Linked DNA regions of Homo sapiens: regions 1, 3 and 4 are each linked to region 2. The links come from fine-mapping of genetic effects on gene expression. A gene starts in region 2. Each other region holds a variant in brackets. All regions are shown on one strand. Distances are between the middles of the regions.

Region 1 (7,276 bases), 300 kb before region 2:
GCCAGGATGGTCTTGATCTCCTGACCTCGTGATCCACCTGCCTCGGCCTCCCAAAGTGCTGGGATTACAGGTGTGAGCCACTGTGCCCAGCCCAGAGCTTCTGTATTTATATTGCTGGTTGTAGGCCTCAGAAAAGCCTTTGGGTTGGTAGGGGTGGGGGTGGGGTGTGAATGGGAGGGAGGTCTAGGAAGGTGGTGATGGGCCTAAGTACTTCTCTTTGCTTCCTGCAGATTGTTAGCACTGCTAGAGTTTGCTGAAGAGAAGATGAAAGTGAACTATGTCTTCATCTGCTTCAGGAAGGGCCGAGAAGACAGAGGTGAGGAGTCAGAGTGGCCTGAGCCTTACAGCCCAGACAGTGGGGCCTGGGGGAGAGAAGGGAGCACCTCCAGGATGAGGTGGGACTCTTGAATTTGCCTTTCAAACCCTGGGAAATCATGGCAGGAGGGCAAGTGCCTGAAGGGCTCGTAAAAGCCTAGTGCTTATTTGTTCCATCTTTGTTTGGGGTTTTGATTTCAGCCTACCATTGTGTTTCTCATCAGACTTTTTTACACTCTGTCTTCTGCAGCTCCACTCCTGAAGACCTTCAGCTTCTTGGGCTTTGAGATTGTACGTCCAGGCCATCCCTGTGTCCCCTCTCGGCCAGATGTGATGTTCATGGTTTATCCCCTGGACCAGAACTTGTCCGATGAGGACTAATAGTCATAGAGGATGCTTTACCCAAGAGCCACAGTGGGGGAAGAGGGGAAGTTAGGCAGCCCTGGGACAGACGAGAGGGCTCCTCGCTGTCTAGGGAAGGACACTGAGGGGCTCAGGGTGAGGGTTGCCTATTGTGTTCTCGGAGTTGACTCGTTGAAATTGTTTTCCATAAAGAACAGTATAAACATATTATTCACATGTAATCACCAATAGTAAATGAAGATGTTTATGAACTGGCATTAGAAGCTTTCTAAACTGCGCTGTGTGATGTGTTCTATCTAGCCTAGGGGAGGACATTGCCTAGAGGGGGAGGGACTGTCTGGGTTCAGGGGCATGGCCTGGAGGGCTGGTGGGCAGCACTGTCAGGCTCAGGTTTCCCTGCTGTTGGCTTTCTGTTTTGGTTATTAAGACTTGTGTATTTTCTTTCTTTGCTTCCTGTCACCCCAGGGGCTCCTGAGTATAGGCTTTTCAGTCCCTGGGCAGTGTCCTTGAGTTGTTTTTTGACACTCTTACCTGGGCTTCTCTGTGTGCATTTGCGTCTGGCCTGGAGTAAGCAGGTCCGACCCCTCCTTCTTTACAGCTTAGTGTTATTCTGGCATTTGGTTAAGCTGGCTTAATCTGTTTAATGTTATCAGTACATTTTAAATAGGGGCATTGAAATTTACTCCCACCACCAGGGCTTTTTTGGGGGATGCCTGGGCCTTTAAAACACTAGCCAAACTCTAATTAATTCTCAAATCACTGCCAGGAGTTCTTGCTCCTGGCTGCAGGCCCAGGCCCCAAGGTCTCCTTCTTGGGGTCACAAACAGCAGTAAGGAAGAGGAATATATAGCAACTCAGGGCCTGGGAATTGTGGGGCAATCCGTTCTTAGGGACTGGATACTTCTGGCTGGCTGAGTATAGTACTAGCTGCCTCCCCACCAGGTTCCGAGTAGTGTCTGAGACTCTGCTCTGCAGGGCCTAGGGTAGCGCTGGGAGTGTAGAAGTGGCCTGCCCTTAACTGTTTTCACTAAACAGCTTTTTCTAAGGGGAGAGCAAGGGGGAGAGATCTAGATTGGGTGAGGGGGACGGGGATGTCAGGGAGGCAAGTGTGTTGTGTTACTGTGTCAATAAACTGATTTAAAGTTGTGGTTGGTCTATTCTTTATTTCTGAACTAGGACCAACTCCCTACCAAACTGTTTTGACTCCAGAGCCTAATAAATAGAGGTGTGGTGCGTGCTCCTTGGGAAAAAAACTGCAGTGTAGGAGGGCAGATAAACTGGCTGAGGTCTCTCTCTGGGGCCATATTACACTGTGAAATGCGGGGTTGCTAGGAGTCTGAGACTTACTGCCAGAGCCCCCTGGAGAGAGATGTGTACATATCAGCTTCATCTAGGAGAGGCTATACCCAAGATCCAATCTGCTCTTAGCTCTTCCTTTTCTGTAAAAGGCTGGGGAGGTTGGGTCCTGATACTGGGTTTTGGCTTTTGCATGGAGCTCCTGACATTCCCATTCCTGAGGTCTTTGAAGGATGCAGCACACACCTTCCCTGTTCTAGTTTTCCCCTTTTGGAGCTCAGTGTCCTAAGGTGTGGCTTCCAGTCCCCCACACCACAGCCTGATGAATAAGCTCTCAGTGGTACCAAGGGGGCTGGAATCCTCTTCACCACAGTTTTTTTAATTTCTCAAGGATTTACTGGCACTTTTTTTCTTTTGCTTCTGTTTTGCCAATTGAAGGGCATGTTCTTCCACCTACATTTTTGCAACTGTCTACTGTTAAGCTGTGGCTCTCACATTGCTCTTTATGGAGCCTGCTTGTGTTTTCACTGTGGGCCAAGTCATTTATCTTGGACTCTAACTTGTATTCATTAAAAGTAATGAGCTCGAATCCCAAGTTTTTTTTTGTTTTTGTTTTTTTCATGGAATCTCGCTCTGTCGCCCAGGCTGGAGTGCAGTGGTGTAATCTCAGCTCACTGCAACCTCCGCCTCCTGGGTTCAGGTGATTATCCTGTCTCAGCCTCCTGAGTAGCTGGGATTACAGATGCCCACCATCACACTCAGCTAATTTTTTGTATTTTCAGTAGAGACAGGGTTTTGCCATGTTGCCCGGGCTGGTCTCGAACTCCTGGCCTCAAGTGATTCCCACGCTTCGGCCTCGCCAAGTGTTGGGATTACAGGCGTGAGCCACCGTGCCTGGCAAATGTTATTAGAGCAAGTCTGGGACTAGAGACATTCCGTTGAAATCAAGTGTCCCCCACTGGGCAGGTAATTCCTAGAGGCAGCTGGCAGTTTAGGATGCAGATATTAAACAAACACAAGGAATCGACAAGACAGATGAAAAAGAACCAAGACAAAACTCAGTCCCTTACTTTTTCCCAAGAAACATGCTTGAGATTCTGCTGCCACCTATTGGTGATTCCTCTTCAATACGGCTAGAGTCACAAAGGCTAAATTGGAAACCCAGTCAAGATTTCCCTCTTCAAAAAAAAATCACCCAGTCAAGATTTCCCTTTTCAAAAAAAACTTTTGCTATTGAAGACCACTGACAGGAAAGAAATATGGTACCCAAAAGGCTGCACTACAGTTTAAAAAGCAACTTAGAAGGTAGAATATTTTGGGGGTGGGGGTGGTGTGTGAAAGGCAAACTAAGTCTAAATTTAAGAACAGGGACATTAAAAACTTTATTCAATAAATACAACAAATAATTTAAAAATATATTTCAATTCCAAAGCCAATTAAGAAGAGGAAGTAGAGAGAAAGGGAAAAAAGTGGGGATGAGGAAGGTAGAGGAAAAGAGAAAGCGGCCAAACAATGGTTTGGTTGGGCTGTGTTTCAGAGTATACCACCCTTTAAAATTCTGATCAAATACTCTTGACCCATAAACCCTTAGCCCTTGTTCTGATGGGGTAGCCACAGGAGTCCACCAGCTGGGAATCATCCACTGAGCTCTGGATCAGAGCATTCTAGAGGCTGGAATGTCGGGGGAGTTTTAGGGGTAGTTTTCCGGTCATTCCTAAAACCATCCGTCCTAACTCCCAGGCAGGTTTAAATAGTGCAAACTCTTAGGCAGAGAGCTCCCAGCTGCATAGTTTCACAGGTGAGTGTCCCAAGCCAGGGCCTCCAGGAAACAGGTCCCAGAGTACCCAGGGGTCCAAAGCCACTTCGGTGAATGGAAATCTAAAGGTGAAGAGAGGGGAGGCCAGGGCACAGAGTAAAGCTCCTGGGCTAAGCCAGTGGCCAAGCCAGAAAACAATGCTGGGCAGAAAAGGGTTACAAGGCAGGTAGTCTGGACACTGGATTCAACAGCTTGCCATCAGCCAGGGAAAGTGAAGCTGAGGATGCATATGGAGCAGGGCCAGGAAGATCAGGAGAGCTGAGGGAGAACAGGAAAATTGGGAGGAAGGAAGAGGCAGCTCAGCAGCAAACTCCAGGAGAAATAACCAGCAGCCCTCACAGATTTGTGATTGTCTCTTAAAAAGATTTATTTTCTCTTCTTGCCTGAATGTACAAAGGCAAAAAGAGTACAGTTTGTATATATATATATTTATATATATATATAAAAAAACAAGGAACTTGGTAATGTACACTTTACAGAAGGGAAGAATCAGGAAGACTGAAATTAAATTCAACAGAGCAACGCCAATGGAACAAAATCTATGAACAGCAACACTGCCCCTCCAGCCCGGGCCTCCAGCTCGCCCCAACCTGCTCCCAATGGGAGGGCTGAGCACCAAGGCAAGCGGGTGGGCTGGGGCAGGAGGGGCTGGGGACAGGGCCTGGGAGGGGCTTGATCCCAGGAGGGGGGCC[CA/A]TGGTAGGAGATCACTGGAAAGCTTCCTGGGATGCCCAAGTAATTAAAACAAACAACAAAGGCCCAGAATTATGGGGCCAACTAGCTGCCCAGTTGCATCTTGGGGGCATCAGAGTAGACAAGGGGATGGTGAGAGGGTATACGGGATAAGTGACATGGGTGGCCTCAAAGCCTGTATGAAATAATTCTCTAGCCCTCTGCAGTCTTAACTCGCAACTCTAAGTCCTGCCATGGCCCCTTAAACGTGGAAAAAAGAGACTCAAGAAATCACCATTTCATTTCATAGGGTGCCCTCTTACCCTTCTAAGCGTGTGGTTCTTTGACCTTGTGATGTGTGGAGAGAGTTCGGTAAGAGAAGGAAATTTCATACATGTACATGTACAAGGCAGGAAAAGGGGATGAAGGGAACTGCCATACCTTAAAATGAGGAAGTAGTTGATGTGGATCCTAAAGAGCAGCTCTCCAAGCCTTGCCTGATCTATCTGGGGATGAGGCCCCCTCCCTCTTTAGCTTCTCCTCTATGGGAAGCCCCGTGAGCAATGTCTGTGAGGGCCTGGGCAGGGGTGGCTCATAAACAGGCTTGGTCTGGTGGTCTTGGCCCTTGGTAGCAAATTTTTCCAGCCTTTGTTTGTGGGGTGGGATAGGATGGGGACCCCTGCTGAGCATCTCATCCCTCTGACTAGGTCATGGATGCCACAGGTAGCTCCCACCTGTGTTTCTCCTCCCCATGTAGAGGTGGGCAGCAAATCTTTCACTCAGCACTTGTCAAGAATCTCCACAGCTGCTGCTTCATGTTATTTCAGAGGGAAGACTAGGCCCGGCAGGCATCAGGATCTGCCATGGTGGCTTTCACCTGCTCTTCTGAGCAGCTCCTACTCTTCAGGGGAGACTTGGATATGAGGATCAAAGAGCCAAATGTTTAAGAAGAAAAATTAAAAAGGAAAAGAAAAACCTGTTCTCTTCTGGAGAACCCAAGGCTGCCCAGCTAATACAGAAGTTCGTCCTCTGTGTTACAGAATGAGTGGAAAGGGCAGGAATGCAGGGCCATGCCTGCCCAATGCAAAAGAAAATTACTCCTAACGGTTTCTTTACAATATATACAGAGTATGCTGCAGGCCAGTGCCACAGATACAAAACACACAACAATATTTAAAAACAAACAGGAACAGAGAGGGAACCTTGGCTCCACCTCACAGGAGCCCCAGGAGGGCATAATCAGGCTGAAATTCAGTCACCCTCTTGGTTGGGGTGACTCAGGTGGGGTGGGATGACGGTGTCTGCACTAGCTACTTCCACGGAGGAAAGGGAGGTCACTGCTCAGAGCACTGCCCATGAGGGCAGCAGAAGGCAGAGGGAATGATGGGTATGAGGGAGGCTGTTTTGGGGCCCTGCCAAGAGGTCTAAAACAATGGTTTTTGGGGAGGACTCAGAACCCAACTTGAACAAAAACGAGGAGGCAGAAACCTAGGGAAAAGGCCTGTAGATCAGAGGGGATCCTCTTGAGCAGATGGTGACCCTAAGCCTCTCAAGTGTAGGGTTCCAGGGTCCTTGGAAATCAACTACTACTGGGCATTGTGCTTACTGTCCCCTATTTCCCATTTTCCAAACTGAGTCGGAGCCAAGTTCCTGCTCCTAGTCACTTTTGGCACTCTGGTCACACACTCCCTTTTCCAGCCTACACTGGTGTCTGTCAGTCTTTATCTCTCTCTCTCAATCCAGAGGGTCATGGAAAGATAGGAGGGGAGAACAGAGGGATGATACCTCAAAAGCCAAGTAAGCTAAGCTCCCCACACCTTGGGGAAGACATGACCCCAATAAAGCTACCAAATCATCCTCACTTTCCCAGTACAAAGAGTATAAAGCTTCCATTGGGAGACTGCATTTCTAAGGAGAGCAGAGAAATGTTGGCTGCCTCAAAGCACAGCTCCACTGAGTACATTCTGAGACTCTAATAAGTAATGGCTTGGATGTGTTATTCCAGGGTCTAAGGAACAAATAACCTCCCATGGCCAGTGGCCCCTCAAACAAAATATGTGTTACCAAGAAACACAGCTTATATTGGCCCACATGGAGGTTATAGACTGAGCTATATAAAATCATGTACTTGTAGACAGAGGAATTGGGCTGTATATATCTGTGGCCTCAAATGAGGAAGATATCAGATGGCTAGATGACAGGACATCTCCAAGAACTGCTGGGTGCTCCCAGGGGCTGCCTTCTGGGCCTTGCCCTAAGGTGACCTGGCAGACTCCAAGGTTCCCCAAGCTGGGGGGAATACTAGTTTATCTGCCTGAGGCTTAAGAGCCAAGCAGTGGAAAAGAAGAGGCAAGACCAGTGTGGGGATCCCCCTGGGAAAGGCACCAAGGGGTTAGGAGGGAAGGGAAAAGGGCAAGGAGTTGGGGAATAAGAAGCAGCAGGACTTAGTGGGGACGCAGGTTCTACTTCACAGACGTCATTCATGCTCCAGCACCAGCTTGCTCCCAGTGTCCCTGGGGAGCCCTGTGCTGGTGTTGGAACCCCTGCCCCCTGCCTCACAGGCAGCTCAAGGCCATGTTGGGGCAGATGCCTTGGTCTTCCTTTCCAGGCTAGGTTGTGAGCGTTTATATGTGCTCATGTAAATGGGGAGAAGTCTCCACATTTGAAGACCTTGTTTTCACAATTATGTAGAAAACAACCCCCAATTTCTTTCCTGAGATTCTAGTTCCTCCACATGCTGCCAATTCCCAGGGTGCAAAGCACTAGGGAGATGCAGAATCTGGTGATGGTGGTAATGATGGTGAGGGGTATGGCTGC
Region 2 (7,162 bases):
CCAGGCTGGAGTGCAGTGGTGAGATATTGGCTCACTGCAACCTCTGCCTCCTGGGTTCAAGCGATTCTCCTGCCTCAGCCTCCCGAGTAGCTGGGATTACAGGTGCCCGTCACCATACCTGGCTAATTTTTTTTTGTATTTTTAGTAGAGACGGGGTTTCACCATGTTGGCCAGGCTGGTCTCGAACTCCTGACCTCAGGTGGTCCACCTGCCTTGGCCTCCTAAAGTGCTAGGATTACAGGCGTGAGCCACCACGCCTGGCCTGAGAACGCATTTTCTTGATACTGTGTAATCCAAACAAAATACAACTGGATTCTAGACTGAGAAGACTACATCTATCATTCTTACCCTATTTCAAATTGTTAATTTATCAAAAATAGCCTCAATCTTTCTTTTTTCCTTTTTTTTTTTGAGACGAGGTCTCACTCTGTCACCCAGGATGGAGTGCAGTGGTGCGGTATCAGCTCACTGCAACCTCTGCCCCGCGGTTCAAGGGATTCTCCTGCCTCAGCCTTCCGAGTAACTGAGATGACCTGCACGCTCCACCACACCCGACTAAGTTTTGTATTTTTAGTAGAGTGGGGGTTTCGCCATGTTGGCCAGGCTGGTCTGAAATTCCTGACCTCAAATGATCCATCTGCCTCGGCCTCCCAAAGTGCTTAGATTACACACATGAACCACTGCGCCTGGCCACCTCAATCTTTTTTTTTTAATACTGTATTTAATATAATACACATATTTAATATATTTAATATAATATTTGATATATTTAATATTTAATATATTTAATATAATATTTGATATATTTAATATTTAATATATTTGATATTTAATATATTACACATATTTACAATAAATATGTGAAAATTGGGCCAGGCGTGGTGGCTCATGCCTGTAATCCCAGCACTTTGGGAGGCTGAGGCGGTTGGATCATCTGAGGTCAGGAGTTCGAGACCACCCTGGTCAACATGGTGAAACCCCATCTCTAGTAAGAATACAAAAATTAGCCAGGCATGGTGGTGCGCGCCTGTAATCCCAGCTGCTCGGGCTGAGGAAAGAGAATCGCTTGAACGTGGGAGGCGGAGGTTGCAGCGAGCTGAGATCGCACCACTGCACTCCAGCCTGGGCAACAGAATCTGTCTCAAAAAAAAAAAAAAAAAAAAGTGAAAATTTTGAACTTATATTCGTAAAAAACACTTTTCTGTTTTATATATTGCAAAGTTTCATTATTTCATTTGATAGCATTCCACTGCTTTAAAAAATGTTTGAAAACTACTAAATACTTAATCTGACTGCGTTCAAGCAAGGGTAAAGCCAAACCATAAGATTTCGCTGTTTTGTTTTGTTGTCTATTCTAGTGTTAAAAAAAATCCTTTATCTTGTTGTTTACTTTTTTTATTTCTGTAGAGACAGGGTCTCACTATGTTGCCCAGGGTGGTCTCCAACTCCCAGTCTCAAGCAATCCTCCCACCTCTACCTCCCAAAGTGCTGGGAATAAGGGCTTGAGCCATCTCCTAGGGCCTCAAAAAAATCCATTAAAATAACCTACTTGAACTGTCTCCTTGCCAAAAGTCTATTTTCTCCGAAACTCAGAAACTCATCTTACTTCCTACAAAAGCCCTAGAACAGCAATTTAGGTTTCAACATCAGTGACCAAGGAATCAAATGAAGGAACACTTTCAGTTCTTCGATCAAGTCCCATTTTTGTAGTTTTCTCCCCTGCCTGAACACTTTGGACCGCCACCTCTGTCTATTCCTTAGTTCTCGGGTGAAAGTTATCCTTTCCAATAAACCTTCCGAGTTTTTCAAATCTTAATGAGAATCCTTTATTTTGTGCTCCAACAAGCCCCTTCATTTCCCCAACCTCAGCACTCATCAACGAAGGGGAACCCAACTGTCTTGTCTTTGTTACCCCAGCACCTGGCGTGTAACAGCAGCGCAACAAATGTTCTTCAATCAGTTGAAAGTAGATATTAAGTCATGTACACCATCTCCATTTCATAGGAGTCATAAAGCATGATAAGCTCTACTAATGATTAATCTTATAAATGAAGAAACCAGGGTACAGAGAGAAAAATTAAGTTGTCCTGGGTTCTAAAACAGGTAAACGACAACAGAATATAGAACCTGAGACTCCAGAGTCAGAAGCTATTTGTACTCTACCACGCTGCTTCCACTTAAATTCTAGGTCCTATTGACACAGCTGACCCTGTTGGCTCTACTGACACAACTCAGATTGGGCCGACTAAAATGTTCAGAGTATATCTGGGTGCGGTGGCTCATGCCTGTAATCCCAGCACTTTGGGAGGTCGAGGCGGGCGGATCACTTGAGATCAGGAGCTGGAGACTAGCCTGGCCAACATGGTGAAACACTGACTCTACTAAAAATTTTTAAAAATTAGCCGGGTGTGGTGGTGCGTGCCTGTAATCCCAGCTACTTGGGAGGCTCAGGCAGGTGAATCACCTGAACCCGGAAGGCGGAGGTTGCAGTGAGCCAAGATCGCGCCACCGCACGCCAGCCTGGGCGACAGAGACTCCGTCTCAATAATAACAACAATAATAATAAATAAATAAAAGAGTAAGGGGTTCAAAGTTAGGAAATACAGTTTGACCTGCCCCTTCTCTCTAGAAAGGAAACTGGCTCCTGGGACAGCCTTGCATTTCTAATTATTACAGATTGGGCGTCTTCCCAGGAAAAAAGCCCGACCGGCAGACTGTGGAGCCGGACACCCTATTCCAGAAACTAAACTACAAAGGTGGAGGCCAAAATTCGACGCCTACAGACTACAGACTGCAGCCCCTTTATCACATTTCTCTCTTAACTTTTCAGTCCTCCCCGCTTCCCGGTTCGCTCAGGCAGTGCACATCCCAGAGCTCCTTCCCCGCTTGGACCCGAACTGTTCTCACTGAATGATCTCCTCGCTGACATCCAGGCCGAAAGTCTTCCGCAACTGCTGGGTGCACCAGTGCACCAGCGGCTCCCCGGACACCGCCCCAGCCACCGCCATCTTCCCCAGCCGGAACCAGCTGAGCTGCAAAAGCCCCACGTCCTGCACCGGACTAGTTCCCTTCGCAACACCAACCTCTCTCACGCGGGTTCCGCCAGCTTGCACCGCCCCGCAAGGTCGCACCGCCTCCAGTGCAGATCCCGCCCATCTGTGCGCCTCCTGCTTCTTCCTGCTTTGTTGTCTACTTCCTTGTGCCCTCCGGAGTCGAGCTCTGTCAGTGCATGATTCTTGCCAATCGCTAAACGTAGGACTCGAGGAAGGCCATTGGCAATTCTGCTAAGAAGACAGTGCAAGTGCCTATAAAAACGACAGTTTAGGGGGAAAACAAACCAATACCCGGAAAGCTGAGAGGCCAGCTTTTTAATCGTCATGGTTTTATGTAAAATAAAACAGCACGTGGAAGGTATTGTAAGCGCTGTAAGTTTTTGCTCTGGTGGTGGTTTTAATTTTTTAATTAATTAATTAATTTATTTATTTATTTTGAGACGGAGTCTCGCACTGTCGCCCAGGCTTGAGTGCAGTGGCATGATCTCGGCTCACTGCAAGCTCCGCCTCCCGGGTTCATGCCATTCTCCTGCCTCAGCCTCCCAAGTAGCTGGGACTACAGGCACCCGCCACCACGCCCGGCTAATTTTTTTTGTATTTTTAGTAGCGACGCGGTTTCACGTGTTAACCGGGATGGAGTGTTTATTTTTAATACCCCCTGTAGTCGACTACTAGATTCACACCGCTAAAACTTCTATTTTATTTTTTGAGCCATGTATTTTCCAGGAGAGCCAAGACAACTCAGCAAGCTCGAGGGTAAAAAACAGTAAAACAGGAGTTGGAATTTGGCTTTGAGGACTTTCCACATGAGTTCTCAACCAAAAATGACAGTATTTAAGGGCTGTCTGCAATTCCCTACCCCGCTAAGACAATGGGCTGGGGAAAATTTAGCCAAACTTTTCTGGAGATCATAATGTCTTCCCATTCATTTCTGGCTTTTTGTTGCATTTGCAGGTTAAAAGTTCTTCATTTCTACTAGCCTGTTTAGACTAAGTGGTCACATTAAATTGGCAGCTGTTTTACCTTTTTGCTAGTGTTTTCATTGGCATAAATATTATAATTAAAATCATGAGTGTATTGGCCGGGCGCAGTGTCTCATGCCTGTAATCCCAGCGCTTTGGGAGGCCGAGGCGGGAGGATCACCCGAGCGCACACGGAGACACACACACAAACACACACACACACACACACACACACACTGGGCGTGGTGGCTCATGCCTGTAATGCCAGCACTTTGGGAATCAGAGGCAAGAGGATCACTTGAGCCCAGGAGTTCCGGACCAGTCTGGGCAGCATAAGGAGAATCCTCATCTCTACAAAAATGAAAAAAATTAGCCTGGCATGGTGGCACATGCCTGTAGTCTCAGCTACTTGAAAGGCTGAGGTGGGAGGATCACTTGGGCCTGGAAGGTCAAGCTTGAAGTGAGCCCTGATTGCACTACTGCACTCCAGCCTGGGCGACAGAGCAAGGCCTTTTTACAAAAACAAAACAAAACCTCATAAGTGTATTGATTTACATTCCATTTAGATTGTCGTAGATATCATTAATTTGGAAAGCAGATGATTTTCCAGGGTTTTTTTTTTTAAGAAAAAGTCAAAATACTCTGTGAATGTTTATTAATTGTGGGTACAAGTTTTGTTTCTTTGTAAAACTCCACTACATTTAATAATAATTGTAAGGTATCAAAGTCATTTACCTGTTTATTTATTCAGTCCCTGTGTTAGGGTTCTCCAGAGACAGAACCAATAGGATAGATAACAGATAGATATAGATACAGATCTATGAGGAGATTTATTAGGGAATTGGCTCAGGAAATTATGGAGACTGAAAAGACCCATGACAGGCCATCTGCAAGCAGGAGACCCTGGAATGCTGGTAGCTGGCTCAGTCCAAGTTGTGAAATCTTCAAGTCTCAAGGTGGAGGGCCTGGAGTTCTGATGTCTGGGAGCAGAAGTCTGAGAAGAGTGTCTCAGCTCCAGAAGGAAGAAATATTTTTTCTCACCTTTTTTGTTCTGGGTCCTTGGTTAATTGGATGGTGCCCGCTCACATTGAGAGCAGATCTGCCCCACTCAGTCCACTGACTCACATGCCAGTCTCCTTTGGAAATACCCTCAAAGGCACCCAGAAGCAATGCTTTACAAGTTATCTAGGTATTTCTTTTTCTTTTTCTTTTTTTTTTCTTTTTCTTTTTTTGAGATGGAGTTTCCTCTTGTTGCCCAGGCTGGAGTGCAATAGTGCAATCTTGGCTCACCACAACCTCCGCCTCCCGGGTTCAAGCGATTTTCCTGCCTTAGCTTCCCGAGTAGCTGGGATTACAGGCATGTGCCACCATGCGCGGCTAATTTTGTATTTGTAGTAGAGATGGGGTTTCTCCATGTTGGTCAGGCTGGTCTCAAACTCCCGACTTTAGGTGATCCTCCCGCCTCGGCCTCCCAAAGTGCTGGGATTACAAGCCCTCTAGGTATTTCTTAATCTGGTCAAGTTGACACCTAAAATTAACCATAACAGTCTCCATAACTAAAACATTAAGTGCTTGAAGGCAGAGACTATGACTTAAGTTTTTTCATATAATATAATTTAGTATGTCATACATGTTATGATAAGTACGTCCTCCAGAATAACATAGGTGGCTGGGTACCGTAGCCCACACCGGTAATCTCAGCATTTTGGGAGGCTGAGGTGGGAGGATTGGTTGAACTCGGAAATTCGAGACCAGTCTGGGCAATATCAGGAGACCCTGTCTCTACAAAAAAAACCTAAAAATTAGCTAGGTGTGGTGGCAAGCTCCTGTGTTCCCAGCTACTTGGAAGAGGATCACCTGAGCTCAGGAGGCGAGGCTGCAGTAAACTGTGATCACACCACTGCACTCTAGCCTGCGTGACAGAGTGAGACCCTGTCTCAAAAAAAGAAAAAGGCATTCTTTTCTCATAAGTCATATGTTAATTATGATGTAATTATAATGCAATTTATTATTACTGTCATTTGTTAAATTACATTTCTGCCTGAGCAATGCAAGCACACCCATTTAGCAAGACTTAAAGATCTCTTTTTTCTTTTCTTTTCTTTTTTTTTTTTTTTTAGACATTCTTGCTCCATCACCCAGGCTGGAGTGCAATGGCATGATCTGGGCTCACTGCAACCTCCACCTCCCAGGTTCCAGTGATTCTCCTGCCTCAGCCTCCCAAGTAGCTGGGATTACAGGCACCAGCCATCATGCCTGGCTAGTTTTTGTATTTTTGTAGAGATGGGGTTTCACCATTTTGGCCAGGCTGGTCTCGAACTCCTGACCTCAGTTGATCTACCTGCCTCTGCCTCCCAAATTGCTGGGATTATAAGCATGAGCCACTGCGCCGGCCAAGATTTTCTTTGGTATAAATGTAGGCAGGCCAGTTGCAGTGGCTCACACCTGTAATCCCAGCACTTTGGGAGGCCGAGGCAGGCAGATCACCTGAGGTCAGGAGTTCAAGACCAGCCTGGCCAGCATGGTAAAACCCTGTCTCTACTGAAAATACAAAAGTTAGCTGGATGTGGTGGCACATACCTGTAATCCCAGCTACATGGGCGGCTGAGGCATGAGAATTGCTTGAACCGGGAGACAGAGGTTGCATTGAGCTGAGATCGTGCCACTGCATTCCAGCCTGGATGACAGAGTGAGACTCTGTCTCAAAATTAATAAATAAAATAAATAAATTTAGGCAGAAATTGTATTGATACATACTGTAACTTTTCTTAATGCCCTAGGCCTTTGAAATTTTCAGGTTCACTCCACACCACTCTCTGTGTTTTATTTCATTATAAAAATTGTGTTTAATTGCTTCTGCAAAGCAAACATTTCAATGAAGAACTTTTACTAGGCATCAGCACTTTTTTTTTTTCTCTAGCATGCATTCTTCATTATCATCGTTGGTGTTAAAATGACAAACATGCAAACAAAAACAAACACACAACTATAGTAATATGTAGACTGCCCCGGGTGGAAATATATATTTGATACTCTTTCTGGCAACTTGCTTGGCAGGTGGGCAAGGAGAAAAGACTATCTTATTCTTTCTGCAGGAATCTGGAATATAAGTTCAAATTAAGTAATTCAGACCTATGTAGAAGCCAC
Region 3 (7,437 bases), 140 kb before region 2:
AAAAAATCCCATATTCATAGAAGTCATCTATAAAAAAGTCCACAGTTAATTAACATCATATTTAATAATTAAGACTGAAAGTTACTCCCTAAAATCAGTGAAGAAGTTAAGGATGTCTGTTCTTGCCACTTCTATTCAACATTGTACTGGAGGTTATAGCTAGAAAAATTAGACAAGAAATAAAGAAAAAAGACATCGAGGTTGTAAGTAAGAAGTAAAAGGATCTCAATTTGCAGATAACATGATCTCATATATAGAAAATCCTAAGGAATGCACAAAAATCATATCAGAGCCAACAAACGAATTCCACAAGGTGGTGAGATACAAGATCAGTACATATAAAACAATAGTATTTCTGTACTCTAGCAATGAATAATCCAAATATGAAATCAAGAAAACAATTCCATTTAAAATAACATCTAAAAGAATAAAATCCTCAGGAATAAATTTAACAAAAGAAGTGCAAGATTTTGGTGTACAACCCCTAAATTTGACTGGCTTAAAAAAAAAAAAAAAAAGAAAAGAAAAAACAGGGCTGAGCGTGGTAGCTCATGCTTGTAATCCCGGCACTTTGGGAGGCCTAGGCAGGCAGATCACTCGAGGCCAGGAGTTGGAAACCAGCCTGGCCAACATGGTGAAACCCGAGCTCTACTAAAAATACAAAAAATTAGCTGGGCTTAGTGGCGTGCACCTGTAGTCCCAGTTATTTGGGAGGCTGAAACAGGAGAATCGCTTGAAACTGGTGGGTGGAGGTTGCAGTGATCCAAGCCAAGACTGTGCCACTGTACCCCTGCCTGGTGGACAGAGTGAGACTCTGTCTCAAAAAAAAAAAAGAAAAAGGGCAAGATTTGTACACTAAAACCACAAAACATCATTGATGGAAATTAAAGAAGTTATAAATAAATGGAAAGACATCTCATGTTCATGGATTGGAAGATTTTTTATTGTTAAGATTGCAGAACTCTCCAAACTGACTGACAGATTCAATACAATCTCCATCAAAATCCTAGCCTGCTTCTTGCAGAAATTGACAAGCTGATCCTAAAATTTGTATGGAAATGCAAAGGACTCAGAATAGCCAAAACGATCTCAAAAAGAAGAATAAAGTTGAAAGACTCACAATTCTCAACACTTACTACAAAGATGAGTAATCAAGATTGTAATACTGCCATAAGGATAGATATGTTGATCAACGGAACAAAACTGAGAGTCTAGATAAAAACCCATACATTTATGGTCAATTAATTTTCAACAAGGGTGTCAAGAAAATTCAATGTGGGGTAAGAATAGTCTTTTCAACGATTGGTGCTAGGAAAACCGCATATGTACATGTAAAAGACTAAAGCTGGATCCCTACTTCACACCATATAGAAAAATTAACTCAAAATGGATCAAATACCTAAATGTAAGAGCTATAACCATAAAAATCTTAGAAAACACTAGTATCCAGAATATATTCTTACAAAGAACCTAATTAAAATATTGACAAAGAATCAGATATCTTCAAAGAAGATATACAAGCACATAAGCACATGAAAAGATGTTCTGAATCATTAGTCATTAAAGAAATCCAAGTCAAAACCACAAGATACCACTTTACACCCACCAGGATGGCTATTATTAAACAAATGAACAATAACAAGTATTGTTGAAAGTGTGGGGAAATTGGAATCCTTGTACACTGCTAGCGGGAATGTAAAATGGCACAGCCATTTACATTCTGGCAAACAGTTTGCCAGCTCCAAACAAAGTTAAACAAAGAGTTACCACATAATCCAGCAATTCTATCCCTAGGTATATAATAAAAAAAACTGAAGACATATGTCCATACAAAAACTTGTATATGAATGTTCATAGCAGCATTATCCATTAACAGTCAAAATAAGGAAAAAACCCAAATATCCCTCACCTGATGAAATGGATAAACAAATGTGGTATATTTATATAATGGAATATTATTCAACCATAAAAAGGAATGGAGTACTGATACATGCTACAATAGATTATGCTAAGTGAAAGGAGTCAGACACAAAAGGCCCCCCCCTTTTTTTTTTTTTTTGAGATGGAGTCTTGCTCTGTCTCCCAGACTGGAGTGCAATGACGCAATCTTGCCTCATTGCAACCTCCACCTCCCGGGTTCAAGCAATTCTCCTGCCTCAGCCTCCCAAGTAGCTGGGACTACAGGCATGTGCCACCACGCCCAGCTAATTTTTGTATTTTTAGTAGAGACAGGGTTTCACCATGTTGGTCAGGCTGGTATCGAACTCCTGACCTTGTGATCTGCCTGCCTTGGCCTCCCAAAGTGCTGGGATTACAGGCGTGAGCCACTGCGCCCGGCCAAAGGCCACAGATTGTATGATTCCATTTACATGAAATTTCTAGAGAGACAGAAGTAGACTGCCCGGGGCTAAGTAAAATGAAGAATTAGGGTGACTGCTGATGGGTACAGGGTTTCTTTTTGAGGAGATGAAAATATTCTGGAATTAGTGATGTGATGGGTACACAGTTTGTGAATATAGTATAAACCACTGAATTGTATACTGAAAAAAAAAAAGAAAACATGAATTATTTCTCAATTTTTAAAAAAACTGTATGAGGAAAAAAAAAAAACCCGTATAACCTGTCTAGCTAACCTCTTCCAAAAAATTTTCCAGTTATCAGTTGTTAAATGGTTTCTGGAAACATTACTTTTTTTTAAATAATAACCAGGAAAAGGCAGGAACATTAAAGCCATTTGATAAACATGCAAAAAGTTGAAATTCTACCCAGAGCTTAGGCCATCAGCCATCATTTCTCAATCTTCCATTCACATGAAATTTAAGTTTATAACATAGAAGATTTTCTTTTCTTTTTTTTTTTTGAGATGGAGTCTTGCTCTGTTGCCCAGGCTGGAGTGCAGTGGCGTGATCTCTGCTCACTTCAATCTCTGCCTCCCAGGTTCAAGCGATCCTCCCACCTCAGCTTCCCAAGTAGCTGGGATTACAAGTGTGCATCACCACATCTGGCTAATTTTTGTATTTTTAGAGACAGGGTTTCACGATGTTGGCCAGGCTGGTGTCGAACTCCTGATCCTCCCGCCTCAGCCTCCCGAAGTGCTGGGATTACAGATTTGAGCCACTGTGCCCGGCCTATAATATAGCAGATTTTCAAAGATTTTCCTAGATTTCCTGAAATTCTTATGTCAGGCTCTTGGTAAAAGCCTACTATTAGGCAGTCAATCCTGGTCTGATTTCTTCAAACCAAAGTGCTGACAACAGTTCCAAAGAGTAGTCTCAGAGCTGCTAGCATAATTACTTTAATTGGAAGCTGTTTCTCTCCAGTTATGCAAGGGAGTCCATATTACATGAAAATAAAATCTATAATAATTCATCATAGTATAGGATGTATACTTTTGGAGAATATAAATTAAAATATACCCTGCTAACATCTCTCCCCATTTCTGTCCTGTCAAAAGATCATTAAGGGTATGGTATGTTAAGGAAGATCTCTTTTGGAAATGCTTATACCTGATATTATAAATGTCAAAGAGTACTCTTAGACAATAGGCTGCAAGTACTGTATTCCTGCCTCATTTTAACATTTAAAAGGAACAATAAATAAATCCAAAATACTTTTCTCTATTGCACCAAAATTTCCTTTTTTTTTTTTTTTAACCACAATGTATTAAAAGTTAAATCTAAACATCTATGTAAACATCGAATAGACAAAAGGTCTAGACTGGTCAACATAGAAATCCATATAGAAAATTACACAGAAAAAAGATGGGTTTCTTTTTGTGCAACTTCCTTAACTAAAATGCTACTCCAGCAAGGAAAAGAAAACATGAAAGACAGCCCTTTTCTTTTTATACAACTAGAAATCTCATAAGCTTATGTCTTGAGCAAGCTCATCAACGAAAGCAAATTATGTTAACTGACATCACAGACACCTCTTTCCAAAGAGAAGAAAGCAGGTCAACATTAAGTCTTTAAAAATTGCAAAACTACTCTCTCCCTACATACTCACCACCATCAGTTTAAAAAAAACAAACACCCAGACTTCTGAAGACAATCACAAATGAAGATAAAAAATTGGTTTGAGATAAGTTATAAAAAGCTAAACAAAGAAGATGAGTTTCATACTCCAGGGTGAGATCACATCAATTGTAATAAAATCTAGCCAAGCAGGGCCAAACCAGTTCAGATCTCTAATGGGAAAATTAAAGATGCTTAAAGGGACAGAGTTGAGATTCATGAGGTATAGATCATGCCCAAGCCAGTCCTGAACCAATAATCTCAGCCAGTTCCACAACATTAAAGAAATTCTTCTCTTAAGAATCTGGTAGAATGAAGTACAATTTTTATGTTCTTCCTTTTACTTTTCTGAATTTTCCAAATTCTTTACAATAAAGCACTTATAGATTTCAATGCCAGAATGCTGAAACCTCGTTAGTAGAAAATAATCTCAAAGAAACAGAAAACCGAGTGGACAGGTTGCTGTAAACTCACAAGGTCAAGGCATTCTCACTTGCCAAGTACAGAGTTTGCCC[C/T]GGGGGCATTAGAGATAACAATGCTTGTGCTTTGCCCAATCTTCTCTCTGACATAATAGGCTTTTGTCTCGAGTCACCAGATGCCTCAGCATTAGTTGGCCAAGTGCTAGGGCCCCAGAGCCTAGATAACACAGCTGGAGCTTGGTACTCCTATACAGGGATTAAGAAACAATCTCCAGCCCACAACTCTATTAAGCAAACTTTGACAGCTGCCAGGGCCAGTAAAGAATAATGAAGGGACAGGGATCCAGTGGCACAGCTGCACCTCTTTCCCACACCAATATTCCTCTTCCTTTTTTCCTCAGAAGGCTCACTCTGCTGCCAACTCCAGGTCTTACTGGTCTCCTTAGCCACTATGGCTGTCCATTTTAAAAAACCACACTGGCAATGATGGGCTTTTAGTAAAACTCAAACACTTCAAAATAAATTGAAGGTTCCCTGCTTAGGGTATTTTCATAAAGGTTATGAGCCTTGATTCTACCTAAATTCCTCCTGACTGTCGTCTTGGCAGCAGAATATTAATAGGCTGTCCTAAGAGAGTTATAAAACAATCAGTATCCAATCATTTCCTGTACCTTGAAATGTTAACACTAAGGGAAGGACAGGGAGGAAAAAATAAAACAAGGAAAGGAAAAAAAATCCTCCTCTCAGGGAAATGCCTACACCCCAGAGACCAGGTCCAAGCTCCCTCCCTACTCCATATCCAGCCACACAAAAGCCAAAGCCAAGAACAATCCTCCACTTACAGAGGCTTCCACAAATTTCTCTCCTCAGCCAACTCTGGAGCCAGGATGAGAGACTTTGTTGGCACATGCCAGCTCTTGTTTATGAGCTGGTTACCACCTCAAAGGCTGCTTGGCCCAAGGTCTGCCTTCCCTTTACAGGATCTTTCAAACTTCAAAATGGGATCTTATCTTGGACTCCTCTTAAGACATGGACGTGGGTTACTTAACCTATTGCTTCCAGCTTGAGTGCTATCCAAGGATTTCTCTGGGGACTACATTCTCAGGGGGTAGTCAACATTATCTAATATGGAAGGACTTTCTACCCACCTGTACAAAGTAAAGAAGAACGGAAAGATTTTAAATTAAAAGTAAAAGCGAACACTTTCAGAAATAACTTCAGTGGCCATCAGGTAAAGGTAACAGCTGAAGTGACGAAAATCAGGTGAGCCTCTCCTTTGCTGTCAGTGTAGCAGAGAAGGTGGGAAGAAAGATAATAAAATAATCTCTTCGGCTGATAATTTAATTCTGTCCCGTACTCAGAGCTTATTTCTGAAATCTTGTAATAGAAATTTCCCTAGGTTGAATTCCATATCCTAACAGCTAGGAATTGAAGAGACATTTGGAAGTCAGTTTCTCGGTTACTTTTTGTTGTCTTCCCATTCTATTGTGAACCCTTTTCTCCCTTAATTTCACCTCACCTTTTAGAGATTTGGGGAGAATACCAGAACGTGTGGGAAAAAAAATATTAGCCAAAAATTTAAGAAAACGAGAATAAAAAAACAAAAAGAAAAATAGAGATTTGGGGATAATAAAAACTGAGACACAGGTTAGGGAGCCTGGCTCTCTAACTGCCTTTGGTTTTCTACTTTCTACGGAAACAACATTCACAACAGAAAACTACATATATCATATATGTACAACTCTGCATTTTCATAAACTGAACACACAGTTATGTAAATAGCATCCACAACAATATTTTAGCAAATAGTGCTCAAATAAAAACTTTGCCCTCCAGGGGATATTTGGCAGTGTCTGGGGACATTTTTGGTTGTCTTACCTTGGAGCGAATATGATAAAGGTATGGATGCTGTGAAACATCCTACAATAAACTGGACCACCCCAACAACAAAGAATTACCCTAGCCCCAAATACCAATAGTGTTGTTGTTGAAAAATCCTGGTTATAGCAACCCAGAAACCTTCCTGTACTGCTTCTCCAGAAAGGACTTTTACCACAAAAATGCAAGACTCCTTATGCTCTGGTAGAAAAGCTGCTGTAACATACTGCCATGAGGAGGTGGTACAGAGCATAAATGATCACAGATGAAACTACTCACCTGCCTGGAAAGACAAGAGAGGCTGCAAGGAGAAAGGAAAATAGAACAAACATTTGTTGCTGACCTGTAACTATTATACTATAACCTCCATATACTGTGCATTTACAGTGTACTTTTAGATCTTTTAAATTAAAACCATATAAAATCTAAGGAAAATGAGATACGGAGAGGTAATTTGCAGAAGATCCTATATATATTAAATGGCAGTCAGTGCTGGGATTCAAACATAGGCCTGATTACAATATCTATGCTTTCACTTTAATACTATTAGAAGTTGAGAGTTTAAATAACTGAAAATTAGGTCAAAAAAGAAAAAAGGAAAACTAAAAAAGTTGAGAGTGATGATGCCAGGCAGGGAAAATATGGCAAATGGTTAAAATAAAAAGCAAAGATCACTCTTCCATTGTTCATAAGTGGCATGAGAAACGAACTTTTCCTCAAAGTGTGCCTCAATCCAATAAAACCAATTCTAACTACAGAACCAAGCAAGTTCTATAACCTCTTTCAGTGGATTTTAAAATGTTTGTATAGACATATGTTCCCAGCTGTGGGTTTTGTATTCTCTCTAGGACACAAGGAAGCAGTTCCCAATATGCCAACTAAGGTAGCTACCTTCTTGGTGTTCCTCAGTGACCCATACTGAGCCCCTTTCATTCAATACAGACACATTCTTCCTGGGTAAGTGCACTCACTTCTATGGCATCAATTACCATTTATGTGTTCACATTAATAAACTCTTAAATCTTTAGATTTCCAGTTCTCTCTCTCACACATCCAGTCCTCAAGAGACATTTCTACTTGGTTGTTCATTCATTCAACTCCCTCTTCCAAATTAACTACCATTTATC
Region 4 (7,437 bases), 200 kb before region 2:
TTACTTAAATGGCATCCTCAAACCCATTTAAGACTTTGCCCCAAACCTCCTTAAAGTGATTTACACATTGGAGTAATTATCTTACAAAGGAGGTGGGAAGGGGCCAGGTTTTAGTCCCAGTTTTTTACCATTTATCTGTATAACCTTAAGTAAGTCACTTCACTTCTCCAAACTTCAAGACATGAGGTAGTTGGATGTTATGACCCCTAAGGATATTGTATTAGGGCTTGTTCAGCTAGAAATGATAGAAAAACCACTGCCAACCTGACTTAAAAAGAGAATTTAGTGGCTCTCGTGTAACTGAAAAAGTCTATATCACACATGACCTGATGTACGGGCTCAAATGATGTCTTCGGGCCCAATTTCAAACCCTCCCTCTCTTGGTGTTTTCTCTGGCACAGCTGCATTGTCAGCCAGGATCTCCTCCTAGGTGGCAAGGTGGCTGTAGCACTTCGATTTTTTTTTTTTTTTTTTTGAGACGGAATCTTCCTCTGTCGCCCAGGCTGGAGTGCAGTGGCATGATCTCAGCTTACTGCAACCTCTGCCTCCCGGGTTCAAGTGATTCTCCTGCCTCAGCCTCCCAAGTAGCTGGCATTTCAGATGCCCACCACCACGCCCGGCTAATTTTTGGTATTTTTAGTAGAGACGGGGTTTCACCATGTTGGCCAGGGTGGTCTCAAACTCCTGACCTCAGGTGATCCACCTGTCTTAGCCTCCCAAAGTACTGAGATTACAGGCACGAGCCACCGCGCCCGGCCCAAATTTTATAAACTCACAGCTCCAAACCCAGTAGAAAGAGACACATTCTTTTCTTTTTTCTTTTTTTTTTTTTTTGAGACGGAGCCTCGCTCTGTTGCCCAGGCCGGACTGTAAGCTCCACTTCCCGGGTTCACGCCATTCTCCTGCCTCAGCCTCCCGAGTAGCTGGGACTACAGGCACCCGCCACTGCGCCCGGCTAATTTTTTGTATTTTTAGTAGAGACGAGGTTTCACCTTGTTAGCCAGGATGGTCTCGATCTCCTGACCTCATGATCCACCCGCCTTGGCCTCCCAAAGTGCTGGGATTACAGGCGTGAGCCACCGCGCCCGGCCGAGACACATTCTTTTCTAATCACACTAACAAAAATCCTTACGTTCATTCTGATTGGACCAGCTTCTGGAGTTTAAAATCAATGGCCCTCAAAATCTTTACATTTTGTGACCAGGTGCAGTGGCTCATGCCTGTAATCCCAGCACTTTGGGAGGCTGAGGCAGGCAGACTGCTTGAGCTCAGGAGTTAGAGACCAGGCTGGGCAACATGGTGAAACCCGGTCTTTACCAACAATACAAAAAAAAAATTAGCCAGATGTGGTGTTAAGAGCCTGTAGTCCCAGCTACTGAGGTGGCTGAGGTGAGAGGATCACCTGAGCTCAGGAGGTGGAGGTTGCAGTGAGCTGAGATCACACCACTGCACTCCAGCCTGGGTGACAGAGTGAGACCCCGTGTCAAAAAAAAAAAAAAATTTTGAGCATTCTCCAAGTCTTCGCCTTTTCTGGTTTTAATTTAAAACAAACAAACAAAAAAAACAAAACAAAACATAGTGCATATGTAGTTTTTGTCTGCCCAGAATCCCTCTTTTCTGCAGAAAACTGCCTTACTCCCACTCCACGTGTTCCTAGTAAGATAACAATCACAGTGCCCTTTCAGCTACCTGGCTCTGGGAGTGGGTTCAGTATCAACCTATTCTTTCAGTTCTTCTAAAGTAAACTGCTGATGGAATATTTCTTTAGTCTTTCAAGAGGGCAGAGCCATGCTTCTTCCTTAATATGTGTGTTCATGACATAAAACCCTTCAAACCTCTCCTAATCTTAAAAGTATTAAATGTTTACATCTTCCTCAAACATAATACTTGATTGACAGTCAAGGAGTTCCAACACAAAACTATTAATATGGCGAGACAGCAAACACCAACCCTTCTTATCCACTCAATTATACTATGAAATGAGTTATGGTTGAATCATCAGAATGTTCTGGAATGGCTGGGTACAGTGGCTTACACCTGTAATCCCAGCACTGTAGGCAGGTGGATCACTTGAGTCTAGGAGTTTGAGACCAGCCTGGGCAACATGGTGAAACCCTGTACCTACAAAAAATATATAAAACATTAGCCAGGTATGGTGGCACGCACCAGTAGTCCCAGCTACTGGGGAAGCTGAGGTGGGAGGATTACGTGAGTCTGGGAGGCGGAGGTTGCAGTGAGCTGTGATTGCACCACTGCACTCCAGCCTGGGCGAGAGAACAAGACCCTGTCTCAAAAACAAACAAGAGAACATTCTGGATGACTTATTTCTCCTAGAACAACTAGATTTTTCAGACTATGAAAGGTTATCAGAATTTCACTGCATCGTGAACATTTTTGTGTCAATTAGCTATAACTTAAAACATTATTTTTATTTATTTATTTAAGTACAATTTCCATTTTATTTTTCTCCAGAGAATAGCCTGTCTTCAGTCTTTAAGAACTCACCTCCTTACATGGGCTTTGGTGGGGGACGTGGGGCAGCACCCGCAGGTCTAAATCGGGGTGGGGGTGTTCGGTCCTTGCGGGCTTCACGAGATCGATTCCTGACTACTTTGCTGTGAATTGCACAACTCACACAGTAATGCAGCTTCACATACAGCTTGGGAAGCACATAGGCATCGAAGACGCTCGCTTCAGAAATGTCCCTGACTGCTGCGGACTCCACTATGTTTCGAATGACGAATTTCTTAATGGCCTTGTCTTTGGGCACGCATCGGGCACAGTTAGTGCAGCGAATAGGCTGCATGTGGCCGCGGCCCTTTTTGGCACGACCATTGTTCCTTCTTTTCTTTGTCATCTTGGAGGCACGGACCGGAGAGAGCAAAAACATTATTTTTATTTTATTTATTTATGTAATTTTTTGAGACAAGAGTCTTGCTCTGTTGCCCAGGCTGGGGTGCAGTGGCGCGATCCCAGCTCACTGCAACTTTTGCCTCCTAGATTCAAGCAATTCTCCTGCCTCAGCCTCCCAAGCAGCTGGTATTTCAGATGCCGGGCTAATTTTTTTTTTTTTTTTTTTTAAGTAGAAATGGGGTTTCATCATGTTGGCCAGTCTGGTCTTGAACTCCTGACCACAGGTGATCTGCCTGCTTTGGCCTCCCAGAATGCTGGGATTGCGGGCCTCGTGAACCACCATGCCTGGCCAACTTAAAACATAATTTTAAATGCTTGAACAGAATTATTACCATTATTATTTTTTTGAGACAGTCTCACTCTGTCATGCAGGCTGGGGTGTAGTGGCGAGATCCCAGCTCACTGCAGCCTCCACCTTCTGGGTTGAAGCAATTCTCGTGCCTTAGCCTCTCAAGTAGCTAGGATTACAGGCACCTGCCACCAGAGCTGGCTAAATTTTCATATTTTTAGTAGAGATGGGGTTTCACCAAGTTGGCCAGACTGGTCTCAAATTCCTGGCCCCAAGTGATCCAACTGCCTTGGCCTCCCAAAGTGCTGGGATTATAGGCGTGAGCCACCATGCCCAGCTGAATAGAATTATTTTGAACAAACCAACCACGATTCATTTAACCAATTAACTATAGATGGATATTTAGGTTGTCCTAATTTTCACTTGTATAAACAAGGCTGAGAGAAATATCTTTTTTTTTTTTTTCTTTGAGGCAGGGTCTTCCCTCTGCTGACAGGCTGGAGTGCAGTGATGTAATCATGGCTCACTACAGCCTTGACCCCCAGAGCTCCAGTGATCCAGTGATCTATCTCAGTCTGCCAAGTAGCTGAGACCACAGGCACATTCCACCAGCTGATTAAAAAAAGGCCGGGTGTGGTGGCTGACACTCGCAATCCCAGCACTTTGGGAGGCCAAGGCGGGCGGATCACCTGAGGTCAGTTTGAGACCAGCCTGGCCAACATGGTGAAACCCCATCTCTACTGAAAATAGAAAAATTAGCTGGGCGTGGTGGTGTGTGCCGGTCGTCCCAGCTACTTGGGAGGCTGAGGCAAGAGAATCACTTGAACCCGGTGCACGGTAGGTCGAGATCGTGCCACTGCACTCCAGCCTAGTGACAGACCAAGACTCTGTCTCAAAAAAAAAAAAAAATTATTTTTAGTAGAGATAGGACCTCACCATGTTGCCTAG[G/A]CTGTTCTCAATCTCATGGGCTCAAGCGATCTACCCACCTCAGCCTCCCAAAGTGCTGGGATTATAGGCATGAGCCACCATGCCTGGCTGAGAGAAATATCTTTGCACCTGTTTCACTAGTTTCATAGGGTGAAGTCCTACATATAAGCAAGTAAAAGGGTATGCACATTTTGAGGCTTTTTTTAAAACATTTTTTATAGAGACAGGGTCTCGCTTTGTTGAGGAGGCTGTTTTTGTTTGTTTGTTTGTTTGTTTTTTGAGATAGAGTCTGTCTCTGTCGCCCAGGCTGGAGTGCAGTGGCGCGATCTTGGCTCACTGCAACCTCTGTCTCCTGGGTTCAAGCGATTCTCCTGCCTCAGCCTCCTGAGTAGCTGGGACTACAGGTGCATGCCACCACACTCAGCTAATTTTTGTATTTTTAGTAGATACGGGGTTTCACCATGTTGGCCAGGATGGTCTCGATCTCTTGACCTCATGATCCGCCAGCCTTGGTCTCCCAAAATGCTGGGATTGCAGGCGTGAGCCACTGCACTTGGCCTCGGAGGCTGGTCTTGAACTCCTGGGCTCAAGCAATCCTCCCAAGCTCAGCCTCCCAAAGTGCTGGGATTACATGCATAAACGAGCATGCCCGGCCTTTAAGGCTTTTCGATACATACTACTCAACCAACTTCCAGGCTTTCTGGAACTTAAAGAAAACTCTATGGTATTGCCTACATTTCCAGGGTAGTTTATTTACTCTTCTCAGGACCTTTTTAAGGTATTATCAGAAATGTACAAAGTTTTCTACTTTTGAACCTATTTGTCTTTATCTTCAAGGGATAACATTTTGTGTTTGTTTTTAATGCCAACAAACACAAAATGGTTATGGTTAGTATAACCATTACCTTGTAAACTGACATTGAAAGCTACTGCTCTTATCTTAAGGAGGTCTATATTGATTTCTGGATTCCTTTCCTGGGTTACATGACTACTCTAAACCCAGATACATATATATATACATATATATATATGCATGTATATGTGTGTGTGTGTTATGTGTATGTAAAATAAATATATATTTTCTATATATGAAGGCCAGGTGGCTCACGTGGGCAATTCCAGCACTTTGGGAGGCCAAGGTGGATGGATCATCTGAGGCCAGGAGTTCAAGACCAGCCTGGCTAACATGGCAAAACCCCAACTCTACTAACACAAAAATTAGCTGGGTGTGGTGGCACACACCTTTAATCCCAGCTACTCAGGAAGCTGAGGCAGTAGAATCACTTGAAACCAGGAAGCAGAGGTTGCAGTGAGCTGATATCATGCCACTGCACTCTAGCCTGGGTAACAGAGCAAGAACCCCTCTCTCAAAATAAAGAGCAAAAGAGAGAGAGAGATCAATTTATCCCATACGCTCTCTCCCCTACTAATATGTATGACCTTATATTTATTCATAGATAATATTAAAATAGTTCCGACCCAAAAACTTCAATACTGAGCACAATTTAAATCCTTCTTAAACCAGGACAATAAAAGGCTAGATTTCCTAGTATACAGGTTGGGAGTTCAGATTTCTAATCAGCAAGTAGTTGGCAGCCAGGAAAGATTTAAGTTCATAAATGAGGACCATGTGCAGTGTGTTTTTTTCTTACCTTCTCCATCCAGCCCAAATTCAGCTCTTCAACTTTCTAGCAAACTTGAATAATGTTTTAGCTTTAATCACAACAAGTATGATCAACCATACCACATCTAATTTTTTACCAGTATCCATTAGTCTCAATTTTCACTATCGCTTATCTGTGAATACTATCAAGAGCTTTCCAAAAGCATCGAGTTTTTCCTGCCAAATCTCTATAATCTCTTTAACTGTCTGGGTCTGTTTACAGTATGTAAAAATTTTTAGCCATTTAATTTATAATTTTAATCTTATAGAAAAATCTCACAAAAAAGTATATTCCTGAGAAGCTCCACAGATGTGGACTACTTTAGGAAGAAGTAAAGGAGGGCCTTGGTTAAGAACAGATGAGATAAGGAAAGAAATACTATTCAAATAGAAGTAAAGGGGATGAAGATAAATAGGAGATAATGATTACGACAAATGGACTTTGAAGATAGCCATCTTGGCTTTAAATAGAGCCTCCACTACTGGCTGTGCAACTTTAGGCAAGTTATTTAACTTCTTTAAGCCACAATTTTCTTGTTAGTAAAATAAAAATTATGCTAGTGTGTATTGCATAGAGCTACTGCAATAATTAAAGGAAATATATAAGAAGCATTTGGTATTGCTGCCTGGAACATAGTCTGATAAAATGCTGCTGCTGCTGCTGCTGAAGTTTCTGTTGTTATTAAATGTGCCCTAGGGATCCTCCAAAAAGGGCTTCATCCACTGACCTTTATCTCAGAACTATGATTAGCCTGATATCAGTAGGTCTTTTCAGGCTAAGAACAGGTCAGAAGTTGGCTACTAAACCATCAATTAAAAAAATCAGTTGAGTTCTTCTCCTTTTTTAGCTTCTCAAGACCACCCTTATTTCAGGTTGGAACATGTCCACACAAGGCAGGGACATCCTCCACAATTCCTGTACCAGTCTACACTGGGCTCCATCAGAAGAGCTAAAATGGAACTAGCTAGTGTTCATTTGAGCAACCCAGGACCAAATTCAGGAGATAAAGTCCCCAGATAACATTCTGATGTGTAAACCATCTCCCCTATTTGGGTAGCTGAGACATTTTCTTGGTTGCACTATTAAGACTGAGGGCCACAGACAGGCATGGTGGCTCATGCCTATAATCCCACCACTTTGGAAGGCTGAGGCAGGTGGATAACCCGAACCCGAGGTCAGGAGTTCGAGACCAGCCTGACCAATATGGTGAAACCCCATCTCTATTAAAAATACAAAATTAGCCAGACGTAGTGACACATGCCTGTAATCCCAGCTACTTGGGAAGCTGAGGCAGGAGAATTGCTTGAACCCTGGAGGCAGAGTTTGCCATTTGCCATTGCATTCCAGCCTGGGCAACAAGGGCGAAACTCCATCTCAAAAAAAAAAAAAAAGACTACAGACCAGGCATGGTGGTTCATGCCTGTAATTCCAGCACTATGGGAGGCTGAGGTGGGAGGACCACCTGAGCCCAGGAGTTTGAGACCAGCGTGGGCAACAAAGTGAGATACCATCTCCACAAATAACAAACAAAAAACAAGAAAACAAGATTGAGAAAGAGGTTGCCATAATCTCTAGTAGTCTGTACAGTCTTCCTCTTCTTTTTTTTTTTTTTTTTTAGACAGAGTGTCGCTCTGTTACGCAGGC

Direction of the effects. Positions count from the first base shown, and alleles are read on the strand shown. Sizes are in standard deviations (SD) of each study's normalised expression. Not every link is listed here.
With allele C in place of T in region 3, the expression in fibroblasts of the gene that starts at base 3,036 in region 2 is higher (large effect, 0.90 SD a copy in GTEx).
For the expression in whole blood of the gene that starts at base 3,036 in region 2, allele A in region 4 goes with a lower level than allele G (small effect, 0.20 SD a copy in GTEx).

The links.
Region 1: its variant is fine-mapped to the expression of TRIP4 in whole blood (TOPMed, PIP above 0.99).
Region 3: its variant is fine-mapped to the expression of TRIP4 in fibroblasts (GTEx, PIP above 0.99). The same link has a PIP of 0.9 or more in breast, stomach and transverse colon.
Region 4: its variant is fine-mapped to the expression of TRIP4 in whole blood (TOPMed, PIP above 0.99). The same link has a PIP of 0.9 or more in lymphoblastoid cells, sun-exposed skin and unexposed skin.

Annotation. Positions count from the first base shown.
Region 1 is chr15:64,682,124-64,689,399 of GRCh38, reverse strand. It overlaps ZNF609 (zinc finger protein 609), which reads right to left. Exons shown (of 10, transcript NM_015042.2): 10 at 3,332-7,276. OAZ2 (ornithine decarboxylase antizyme 2) reads left to right here. Exons shown (of 5, transcript NM_002537.3): 4 at 231-316; 5 at 566-1,826. The coding sequence ends at 696. Among named protein-coding and RNA genes, the nearest start is that of OAZ2, 18 kb to the left of the region's middle. RefSeq lists an enhancer at 3,357-3,858. The variant CA/A (reference allele first, on the strand shown) is at 4,483.
Region 2 is chr15:64,383,710-64,390,871 of GRCh38, reverse strand. It overlaps TRIP4 (thyroid hormone receptor interactor 4), which reads right to left and starts at 3,036. Exons shown (of 13, transcript NM_016213.5): 1 at 2,908-3,036. The coding sequence starts at 3,008. It also overlaps a transcript of PCLAF not described here. RefSeq lists enhancers at 2,320-2,820, 2,750-3,239, 2,821-3,321.
Region 3 is chr15:64,519,186-64,526,622 of GRCh38, reverse strand. All of the region lies in intron 2 of ZNF609 (zinc finger protein 609), which reads right to left. Among named protein-coding and RNA genes, the nearest start is that of ZNF609, 62 kb to the right of the region's middle. The variant C/T (reference allele first, on the strand shown) is at 4,529.
Region 4 is chr15:64,588,399-64,595,835 of GRCh38, reverse strand. All of the region lies in intron 2 of ZNF609 (zinc finger protein 609), which reads right to left. The region is part of intron 4 of LOC101930091 (a long non-coding RNA gene); the gene reads left to right. It also overlaps the pseudogene RPS26P50. Among named protein-coding and RNA genes, the nearest start is that of OAZ2, 110 kb to the left of the region's middle. The variant G/A (reference allele first, on the strand shown) is at 4,151.